Homo sapiens: one gene and its partners. The protein of the gene in region 3 interacts with the protein of the main gene of each other region in a pairwise test. Each region holds a gene or a part of one and is shown on either strand. Other genes may lie near its edges.

What was found.
Region 1: the proteins of CTIF (region 3) and ATPAF2 interact in binary tests that used the Homo sapiens proteins (3 or more experiments, as listed by UniProt).
Region 2: the proteins of CTIF (region 3) and SPG21 interact in binary tests that used the Homo sapiens proteins (3 or more experiments, as listed by UniProt).

The regions. Positions count from the first base shown.
Region 1 is NC_000017.11:18,029,048-18,032,698, reverse strand, and holds part of ATPAF2 (ATP synthase mitochondrial F1 complex assembly factor 2), read left to right. Parts: intron 1-3,651. UniProt on the Homo sapiens protein: Plays a role in the assembly of the F1 component of the mitochondrial ATP synthase (ATPase).
Region 2 is NC_000015.10:64,965,865-64,969,515, reverse strand, and holds part of SPG21 (maspardin), read left to right. Parts: intron 1-153; coding exon 154-261; intron 262-3,651. UniProt on the Homo sapiens protein: May play a role as a negative regulatory factor in CD4-dependent T-cell activation.
Region 3 is NC_000018.10:48,751,979-48,755,629, forward strand, and holds part of CTIF (CBP80/20-dependent translation initiation factor), read left to right. Parts: intron 1-3,651. UniProt on the Homo sapiens protein: Specifically required for the pioneer round of mRNA translation mediated by the cap-binding complex (CBC), that takes place during or right after mRNA export via the nuclear pore complex (NPC).

The DNA of each region.
Region 1 (3,651 bases), on a different chromosome or scaffold from region 3:
ACAGTAAATGGCTGGAGAGTGCAGAGATGAGCTTTGCACATGTCCCATCCCCAGGACTTGTATGTCCTGGAACATGATCAGTACTCACCAAAGCTTGTTCCAAGACACGTTTGCCCCTCCAAGTGTCAGTGGGTCATTCAGGAGAGCCCCTGGCTAAAACACATCTATGTGCACCTGCCTTCTAATCTGAGGCCTGGCGGCCCCTGGGCTTCTTTTGCCCTTCTGCCGTCTCATTTTCTGCATGGTTTTCTTCTGCTTGGAGAAATTTTTGGTGGCTTCTTCCCTGCCCTCCATCTATCCCACTCCCATCTAGTTTTTTCTTATTCAGTTACAGAAGTGAGCCTGGCCAACAAAACAGAAAAAAGACTTCCCTCTTGGGAAACCTGGCTGTCCCAGGAGCTTTTGAAGGTTCAGCCCTGTGCTGGCAGTTCCTGCCTTGAGTCTGTTCGTCTGCCCCAGGTCTCTTGGGTTCACTTCCCAGACCGGGCCTGGAAGTATGCTAGAGTGCTCACTCTTGTACATTTGTACACTCTGCTGGCTCTTCCTGCTGACATGGGAAGACCCTTTCCCCAGTGTTGAGTCAGAGCTTTCAGAGCCCTTCCCAACTTCCTGCCTGGCCTGGCTTTTATACATGCAGCCCAGCCTGTTGCATTGGAAAACACAAAGGACATGGTCTACCTCACTCCAGACCTGAGAGAGGAAAGGAGGCCTCCAGACCCATGTCTAGCCTGCCATTTGGATATGACCAGGACAGCATGTAGAGAAATTTAAAAGCAGTAGGGTGCTGTAAACTTCTAATTTTAGTGTCAAACGTATGAGATAATCAGTGTTGTGATTTCAGATGAAGGTGCCATAGTAAGACAACATCATCTTGGTGGACAGATCTGATCCTAAAAAAACACTTTATTTTCTTTTTTTTGAGATGGAGTCTTGCTTTGTCACCCAGGCTGGAGTGCAGTGGTGCGATCTCAGCTCACTGCAAGCTCCACCTCCCGGGTTCACGCCATTCTCCTGCCTCAGCCTCCCAAGTAGCTGGGACTACAGGCGCCCGCCACCACGCCCGGCTAATTTTTTGTATTTTTAGTAGAGATGGGGTTTCACTGTGTTAGCCAGGATGGTCTCAATCTCCTGACCTCGTGATCCGCCCGCCTCAGCCCCCCAAAGTGCTGGGATTACAGGCGTGACCACCGCGCCTGGCCTAAAAAAACACTTTAAACTCTGTCTATTTTATTCACTCTTGTATCCCAAGTGCCAAGACACATGGTAGACACACACATATTTTTGTGGGAAAACAATTTGGGCCTTAGTTTAGTAAGTGCAAATGTGGAATGCAATTTTGGGCCCTCTGTCTGTAAGTATTAGTGATAGCAAATGAGATTTATAGAAAACTGATATGATGGGAAAACATAAAAATATTTGGAGTAGGCTGGGCGCAGTGGCTCACGCCTGTAATCCCAGCACTTTGGGAGGCTGAGGTGGGCGGATCACGAGGTCAGGAGATCGAGACCATCCTGGCTAACATGGTGAAACCCCGCCTCTACTAAACAAAATGCAAAAAATTAGCCAGGCGTGGTGGCAGGCACCTGTAGTCCCAGGTACTCGGGAGGCTGAGGCAGGAGAATGGTGTGAACCGAGGAGGCAGAACTTGCAGTGAACCGAGATCGCGCCACTGCACTACAGCCTGGGCGACAAAGTGAGACTCCATCTCAAAAAAAAAAAAAAAAAAGGCCAGGCGCGGTGGCTCACGCCTGCAATCCCAGCACTTTGGGAGGCCAAGGCAGGTGGATCACGAGGTCAGGAGATCAAGACCATCCTGGCTAACACGGTGAAACCCCGTCTCTACTAAAAAAAAAAAAAAAAAAAAAAAAGCCAGGCGTGGTGGCGGCGCCTGTAGTCGCAGCTACTCAGGAGGCTGAGGCAGGAGAATGGCGTGAACCTGGGAGGTGGAGCTTGCAGTGAGCTGAGATCGCGCTACTGCACTCCAGCGTGGGCAACAGAGTGAGACTCCATCTCAAAAAAAAAAAAAAAAGAAAAAGAAAAAAAATATTTGGAGTAAAACCAGTTGCCCACTTCTCCATTACCCTTCCCTGTCCATGCACACATACTAATTTCTCCTGAATTTTCATGGTCTATTTGAATTAATGAAATTTTAACTTAAGCTTGTTTTTTTTTTTTTTTTTTTTTTCCCCAAGAGACAGGGTCTTGTTCTGTTGCCCAGGCTGGAGTGCAGTGGTGCCATCACAGCTCACCTGAAGCCTCAGCCTCCTGGGCTCAAGCAATCTTCCTGCTTCAGCCTTCCTAGTAGCTGGGGACTACAGGCATGTGCCACCATGCCTAGCTAATTTTTAATTTTTCTTTTTTTTTTTTTTTTTTTTTTTGAGATGGAGTCTTGCTCTGCCACCCAGGCTGGAGTGCAGTGGCGTGATCTCAGCTCACTGCAGCCTCTGCCTCCCGGGTTCAAGCGATTCTCCTGCCTCAGCCTCCCGAGTAGCTGGGACTACAGGCATGTGCCACCACACCTGGCTAATTTTTGTATTTTTAGTAGAGATGGGGTTTCACCACATTGACCAGGCTGGTCTCGAACTCCTGACCTCAGGTGATCCACCCGCCTCCGCCTCCCAAAGTGCTGGGATTACAGGCGTGAGCCACTGCGCCCGGCCTCATTTTTGTATTTTTTGTAGAGATGGGGTCTCATGTTGCCCAGCTTGGGTCTTGAACTCCTGGCCTCAAGCAGTCTTCCCACCTTGGCCTCCCAAAGTGCTAGGATTATAGGCATGAGCCACTGCGACCAGCCTTTTTTTTTTTTTTTTTTTTTTTTTAGCGTTAAAGGCAAACTATTTGGCCGGGCATGGTGGCTCACGGGTTGGATCACTTGAGGTCAGGAGTTCGAGACCAACCTGGCTGGCATGGCAAAACTCTGCCTCTACTAAAAATTCAAAAATTAGCCTGGTGTGTTGGCGCATGCCTGTAATCCCAGCTACTCAGGGGACTGAGGCAGGAGAGTCGCTTGAACCCAGGAGGTGGAGGTTTCAGTGAGCTGAGATTGCACCACTACACTCCAGCCTGGGCAAGAGAGTGAGACGCCATTTCAAAAAAAAAATAATAATAAAATAAATAAATAAAGCAAATGATTTACTCTTTTTTCTTCCACATGCTGCATCATTATTTCCAATAAATAACTTCAGTTAGGGTCTCCAAAGACTTTGAGAACTCAGTGAACACATGAACGAGTGAACAAACGAATGAATGAATGAAAGTTTTGTGTTTGTCACAGATGTGAGAGACTGAGTTATAGCTTATAGCTTCCAAAATGTGACTTCTTTGTTATCAGTTGAGGGAATCTGCATAATTCCTTAGAAGTGCTCTTGGTTGTTAATCCCTCCAGGGTAAAAGAAGGAGACTGTTTCATGTAAGATTTTATTCAAGTTATTTTCAAAAGAAAACAAAGGACATAGATTTTCCCATTCTTGAAGGAAATGTTTGGAGTTCCTGTTGGATACACAAGCAAGCTGGTTAATTAGGTTAATTAATTGGAGAGAGGGGATGGGAAATGCCCTTGGGAGCTCTGTATCCTGCCGATGTATCACACACGCACACCCTGCGCACGCACACTGGCTTTCCACTCACTCCTTAGAGGCATCAGAGTCTTGC
Region 2 (3,651 bases), on a different chromosome or scaffold from region 3:
GTCTCTCACCTAAGTTGTGGTTCCTCACTGATGACTTTTCTGGCCCCACCACAGATGATACCACCTTTATAAGCACAAATGTTGTCTGTGGATTTAATGTAAATGTGAAAAACAAAATTATTTCAAAAACTTTACCTGTGTTTCTTCCTGCAGCTAGAAAGTTTGGGTCAGAGTGAACTGGCTTCAAGACTTACCTTGAATTGTCAAAATTCTTATGTGGAACCTCATAAAATTCGGGACATACCTGTAACTATTATGGATGTAAGCTTCCTTTTAAGTAAAATAGCTGCTTTACTTTTTAAAATGTGTATGTCAAGATCTCCTATAAAACTATTTGATAACTTTCAATGTACCTCTTCAAATGCTGCCTTGGCTTTTGTTTTTACCCTCCAGCTTTCTCAATTCCAAAATAATCTGTTTATTGCTTATCTTGGATTTCTTTCTGGCAGGAATAACACCATTGAAATCAAAATAGGCCGAGCACAGTGGCTTATGCCTGTAATCCCAGCGCTTTGGGAGGCTGAGGCAGGAGGATTGCTTGAGTCCAAGAGTTCAGGACCAGCCTGGGCAACATAGTGAGACCCTGTCTGTATTTATTAAAAAAAAATAAAAATAAAAATGAATCAAAATAAATTTAAACAAGGGAGTCTACCCATTTGATGTATTTTTGCTGTTCTCATCAATAGATATTGCACCATATATTGCACATATATGGGCAGCAAAGAGAAGGTGCTTCACAAGGGTAACAAGGGTAGAGAATCAAGAATTCCATAGTTTAATTACCACAAAAGCTTGCTTATTTTTTTATTGTGGTAAAATGTACATTTAAAATATGCCATTTTAACCATTTTTAAGTGCATAGTTCAGTGGCATTAAGTATATTCACAGTTCGGCAACCATCACCATTTTCACAACATTTTCATCATTCCAAGAAGAAATTGCATACCCATTAAACAATAACTCCTGTTCCCTTTCTTCCCCCGGCCTCTGATAATCAACGGTTTTATTTTCTGTCTATAAAAATTTACCTATTCTAGAACCTCATATAAGTAGAATCATACAACATTTATCCTTTTGTGTGGCCATTTCACTTAGCATAATGTTTCACAAGACTTATCTTGAAATGTTATACATGTGTCAGAATGTCATTTCTTTCTTTTTTTTTTTTTTTTTTTGGAAACAGGGTCTCACTCTGTTCCCCAGGCTGGAGTGCAGTGGTGCAATCTCAGCTCACTGCAACCTCTGCCTCCCGGGCCCAAACAATCCTCCCTCCTCAGCCTCCTTAGTAGCTTGGACCACAGGCTCACACCACTACGTTCGGCTAATTTTTTGTAGAGATGGGGTTTCACCATGTTGCCCATGCTGGACTCAAACTCTGGGACTCAAGCTGTCTGCCTGCCTGGGCCTCCCAAAGTGCTATGACAGGCATGAGCCACCACGCCCAGCCTATTTCTTTTTAAAGCTGAATAATATCTACCAATAAAACCAATGTTGGTTTATACCACATTTTGTTTATCCATTCATCCGTCAGTGGTCACTTGGGTTGTGTTCAGCTTTTGGCAATTGTGAATAGTGCTTCTATGAACATTGGTGTAAAAGTATATGTTTGGGCAGGGCACAGTGGCTCATTCCTGCAATCCCAGCACTTTGGGAGGCTGACTCAAGAGGATTGCTTGAGCCCAGGAATTCGAGACCAGTCTGGGCAATACAGGAGACCCTGTCTCTACTACTAATAAAGAAAATTAGGCCGGGCGCGGTGGCTCACCCCTGTAATCCCAGAACTTTGGGAGGCCAAGGCGGGTGGATCATGAGGTCAAGAGATCGAGACCATCCTGGCCAACGTGGTGAAACCCGTCTCTACTGAAAATACAAAAATTAGCCGGGCATGGTGGCACACACCTGTAGTCCCAGCTATTCGGGAGGCTGAGGCAGGAGAATTGCTTGAATCTGGGCGGTGGAGGTTGCAGTGAGCTGAGATCGCACCACTGCATTCCAGCCTGCCAATAGAGTGAGACTTCGTCTCAAAAAAAAGAAAAAAAAAAAAAGGAAAATTAGCTGGACATGGTGCCACATCCCTGTGATCCCAGCTACTTGGGAGGTTGAGGTGGGAGGATCACCTGAGCCTGGGGTGAGCCATGATCATGCCACTGCGTTCCAGCCTGGGCAACAGAGTGAGAACCTGTCAAAAAATATATGTATATTTGTTTGAGTTCCTGCTTTTAATTTTTTTTTATTTATTTTTAAATTATTTTTTAAAAATAATTTTTTGTTTTTTATTTTTATGGGTACATAGTAGATGTATCCTACTTTTAATTCTTTTGGACATATCGTTTGAAGTAGAATCACACTTTTTGAAGTACCACCATACTGTCTTCCACAGTGGCTATACCATTTCATGTTCCCACCAACAATGCACAAAGATTCCAGTTTCTCTATATCCTGGACCCTTATTTCTGGTTTTTTGGTTGATACTTATCCTAATGGATATGAATTGGTATCTCACTATGGTTTCAATTTACTTAAAAAAAAATCATATGATTATTTTGCCTTATAAATGGATTTGTTCCTAAATTCAAATAATATGGTTTTTTGTTTTTGTTTTTGTTTTTGTTTTTTTGAGACAAAGTCTCACTCAGTTGCCTAGGCTGGAGTGCAGTGGCGCGATCTTGGCTCACTGCAAGCTCCGCCTCCTGGGTTGACGCCATTCTCCTGCCTCAGCCTCCCAAGTAGCTGGGACTACAGGCACCCACCACCACGCCCAGCTAATTTTTTGTATTTTTAGTAGAGGCAGGGTTTCACCATGTTAGCCAGGATGGTCTCGATCTCCTGACCTCATGATCTGCCCGCCTCAGCCTCCCAAAGTGCTGGGATTACAGGTGTGAGCCACCGCACCTGGCCATAATATGGTATTTTTAATAATTGGTTTTTGTTGGGAAATTATTCATTATAAGCGTGTAAACAACTTCTTATCATCCTCTGCCATAATCGCTGCATTCTGACATTTGCCATAACATAGAACAAGCTTTTCAATGGTCCTCACAGGACATTTGCTCTGCCTGCCCTTCTTTCAAAGCTGTGCTCACTGCCTGGGTTCATGGTCACTGAAAACAGCCTGTAAGTTTTAGTTGGAGATGCACTTAAACATACAGATTTGGTATGGTATATTTAGTATACAATTTTTTTTGCTTATTTTACTTTTTGAAAAATTTTGTTGCATGTAAAAACGTAAATGTGTATGGGTATTGAAGGATGTCTAGAATCATATGCTGCAAACTGGTTTCCCCAAGAAAGAATAGCTTGTACTCTACATTTTTTTGGAATTTTTTTCACTGAGCCTAAATGACTTAGTTTATTGCTTTAAATTAATGATAAAAGTAAAAAGTTCTTTTGGGGCTTCGTGATCTTTTTGAAACTTATTGACATTTGCAATGATTGTTCTCTATTAATATTCTGTTAATCTACTTAGCTATATTTGAGGAAAAAGGAAATTCATGGTAGAATTTCCCCCGACCCCAGCCGGGCTTGGTGGCTCACGCCTGTAATCCCAGCACTTTGGGAGGCCGAGGTGGGCAGATCACCTGAGGTCAGGAGTTTGAGACCAGCCTGGCCAACATGGTGAAACCCCATCTCTACTAAAAATGCAAAAATTAG
Region 3 (3,651 bases):
TCATTCTACAGTTAGTGAGAAAAGTCTTTGCCTGTAGGGTGCAGAGGTACCAATCAGACCTTTCATCTATTCCAGAGCATCGTTTGGCGAGGTAAACATCTGATTTCTAAAGCTTTTAGTCCATGCAGTGAGCTACCACACTTCTTACATGAACTTTTGCCTAGGCTGGCAAAGACCTCAATCTTGAATTGTTTTCTACCCAACTCTGAGCAAAGAGAGCCACAAAATCTATTGGAGTGGGGGAGTCTGCAGCTTGGCTGGCCGCCCACGGTGGCAGGAGTGTTTCTGATGCATGCTGGCCCTCTCCTCTCAGCGTTGTTAGGAGGGAGTGCTCAGGAAGTAGCTGGCCCAGTGCTGCTGTTGCCGCCATCATGATAATGATGGCTCTGGCAATTACAGGGCCCGTGTGTTGCCTAAGCTTTGTAGCGATGCCCCCAGTTCTCCAAAGAGCACTGAGATCTCCAATAAGTAATTGTTAAATCCAGTCATATGGCGTGTTACAGCAAAAACACAAATCTGAGTTCCAGTGAGGGCTTTGCCACTAACTAGCGGGGCGACCCTAGAAGGACAAAGCAACCTCTCTGGACCTTGGTTTTCTCATCCGTCATGCTGTGACTCATGTAATCCTTACAACTGCCCCTCAGGTGGGGACTGGCACATCTGGAAACAGAGACACAGAGAGGTGAGATCACCCAGCCCATGCAACTGTGAGTGGCACAGTGCCAGGCTCTGTGCAGGCTGCCATACCCCAGACAGACCTGGCAAGGAGTGTCCTGCGGGGGACACCCATCATCCGAATCAGCCCTGCGCGCACCATGGGTGCTCCGTTAGTATAGGTCACTGTGATCCTTGTCTCTGAGTGTTCATCAGCCAATACCATGATGTCCCTTGGTTGACTCCCTCATGAGGGAAGAAAACCTCCCCTCCCTTATACTTTTCCTTTTTAAGCTTCCCCATCATTCTGCAAACTGGGGTGGGTGTGTGTGGCGACTTTTGTTCCTGGGTCCTATATGCCATCGCTCGACTAAGCAGCCCCTGAGCTGCAGAGAAATTGTTGGTGCCTGTGCCTCCGAGCCTCACCGCAACCCTTGCGTTGTCCCAGGTGACTGGGCCAGGGCAGGCAGAGCTCACTCAGGGCATGTGTAGGTGGGCAGGAGTGGAGGTGCCTACGCTGGTAATAAGCAGTCATCACTTTTCCTGAAGGCAAGAAATATGAGCCCATGCATAGTTTTAAAACCACTTGCCCTAGGAATTTTGCTTTCAGAAATTTTTAAGCAGACCTACAAATTATGTGGTAAAATGTCCGACATGGAGAGAACCATAATAAGTCAGTGGCACTCAGAATATCTAGTTGGGAACGATTATGAAATAAAAAACGAACAGAGGGACATTTGTCTCCATTTGGACTGCTGTTAAAACCATTTTTTTAAACAAAATTTGAAGTTATTCTCCCTACACCCACCTCCCAAAATGCAGCTGTGGTGTTCCGAGAACATTTTTGTCTTTTTGTATAAAAGAGAGCAGTCTTAGAGTAAAACAAGACATCTGATTTCAGAACCCAAAGAATAAAGAATAAACTAAATGAACGATGGAAAAAGCATAAACCGACAATTTCCATTCTCCAAAAAAAAAAAGCATTATTTTCCTAACAGCAGGTGTTGCCAGTAGCACAAATGGAATATTAATCTTATCTCCTGTGCTGTTCTTCCTCACCCGAAGAAGACTTCCCCAGAAATAAAGAGGCAGAGAGTTGGGTTTTTGCCCTTCTTACTTGCAGGGCTGCAAAACTGGGTGTCCAGTATGTTTCCCAACCCAGGACCCACATGTCCATGTGTCTGAGACCAAGTGCAGCCTCCTTGCCGGGTTGCTGGGAGCAAAAGCGGCTCATCCCTGGCCCAGCCAAACCCCAAACCCGCAGGTTTCGTGGGGAGCAGCCAGCTGGCCCCTGAATGAAGGTATCGACGAAACCCAGCGCCAGCAAATACAGAAGAGAGAGGAGCTGGTTTTGGCTGGCCCAGCCAACGACCGCTGACAAATATTTGTGAATGGCCAGAGCAGGGAAGCCTAGGTCTCCATTGCTGGGGAACGAGGCCTAACTCCAAGTCTGTTCCAGTGCCCTTAGCAGCCCTCTTGGCTCCTTCTCAGGCAAAGAATTTGGACCTCATGCAGTTATCACCACCGAGGTCTCAGTGGCCATTCAGCCCTTTGTCTCCATTACTACAGGTCACTGCGGTCCTTGTCCCTGAGTGTTCATCAGCCAAGGAGGCTGTGTCTAAAGGCGAATGGGAGACAGATGGGAGGTGGCTGCAAGGTGCTGTGATTAGTTGACAGGCTTAGCTCACTCCTGGAGCCCCTGGCAGGCCCTCTGCTGTAGGAGTGCACCTCACGGAGCCTCGGTTGTCTTATCTGTCGAATGGAAAGAAAGGTTCTTGGCCTGCCTGCACACAGAGGCCAGTCCCAGCAATCACTCACCCTGAGAACTAAGCAAGGCCTTGTGCAGGAAGAAGGAAAAGGGAGGACAGAGGGACAGTCTTAGTGCCTCTTCCTCCAGTGGCATCTGGGTTCTTCCCTGCCCTCCCAGGGCTCACCCAGCTGATTCCATCTGCCATTTAGCTCCATATCAAGACCTCCTTATTTTGAACCTGTTAGTCTTTCCTACCCAATTAGGAGGGAACACTTGAGGTGGACTCCCTGGCTTCCCTCCCACCTACGGATGGCTTTCCACATGTGCAAAGGAGCCGCCGCCCAGCAAGGGTGAGCCTGAGAACGCCCACTAATGCCAAGTGGCCTGGGGCATTCTTGGCCATTGCTATATTGTCAGGGCTGGCTGGCTCCAAGCTCTTTCGAACCAGAAAGACATGGAATTCCAGGTCCCTCCAGATTTCCAGGAATGAACAGCAGAAGCCCTGCAGGAGCCAGCTGATTTCTTTCTGGAGCCCCTGACCACTAGCCATATAGCAATTACTTCCTTCCCCCTCCAGGTAGATAGAAGTTGTTTTCTTTTCTGGGGGTGGAGGAGTGCACTGGGTAGAGAGAGGGAAATCCCTGTATGGCAAGTGGGAAACCAGGCAGTTTCAAGACGGATGTTGGGAAGGGCTTGGTCAACCATCCTTTGGGGACATTTCTTGGGCCATAGCTGCAGGCGCCACAAAAATTCTAAATAAGGATGACGAAAGTTGTGAGAATCAATTATTATCTGCCAGGGAATTTCCAAGGTTCCTCTCTGGGCTTAAAAATAACTCACATTGAAAGAACAAAGAGAATGGAAGGAGCAATTAGTTGAAAGTAACTGAGAAGTTAAAGGAGGGAGAATTCACAAAAAGTCACAGGCACGAGGCACCCTGGAGAGTGGTCTGTGGGCCACAGTTTCTTCTGGGCTTTCCAATGGGGGTTGCCTTACACTCTGCAGAATGAGGGCTGCAGCCCTCCCCGCTGACTCAGGCATTTGGGGCTGGGCTGGGCTGGGTAGTCGGAAGGCCAGTTGGTGGTAGAATCACTGGGAGGAACCTGACTCAAGGGCCCCACTTTTCTCATGGGGCCCAACTCTTCTCCAGGTGCTGGTGCTGATAGCTCCTACCTGCCATGGGGAGTGAAACTGAATATTTCAGCAATGCCAGTGAGGAGGGGGGTGTGTTTGGGAATGGAGGGGCT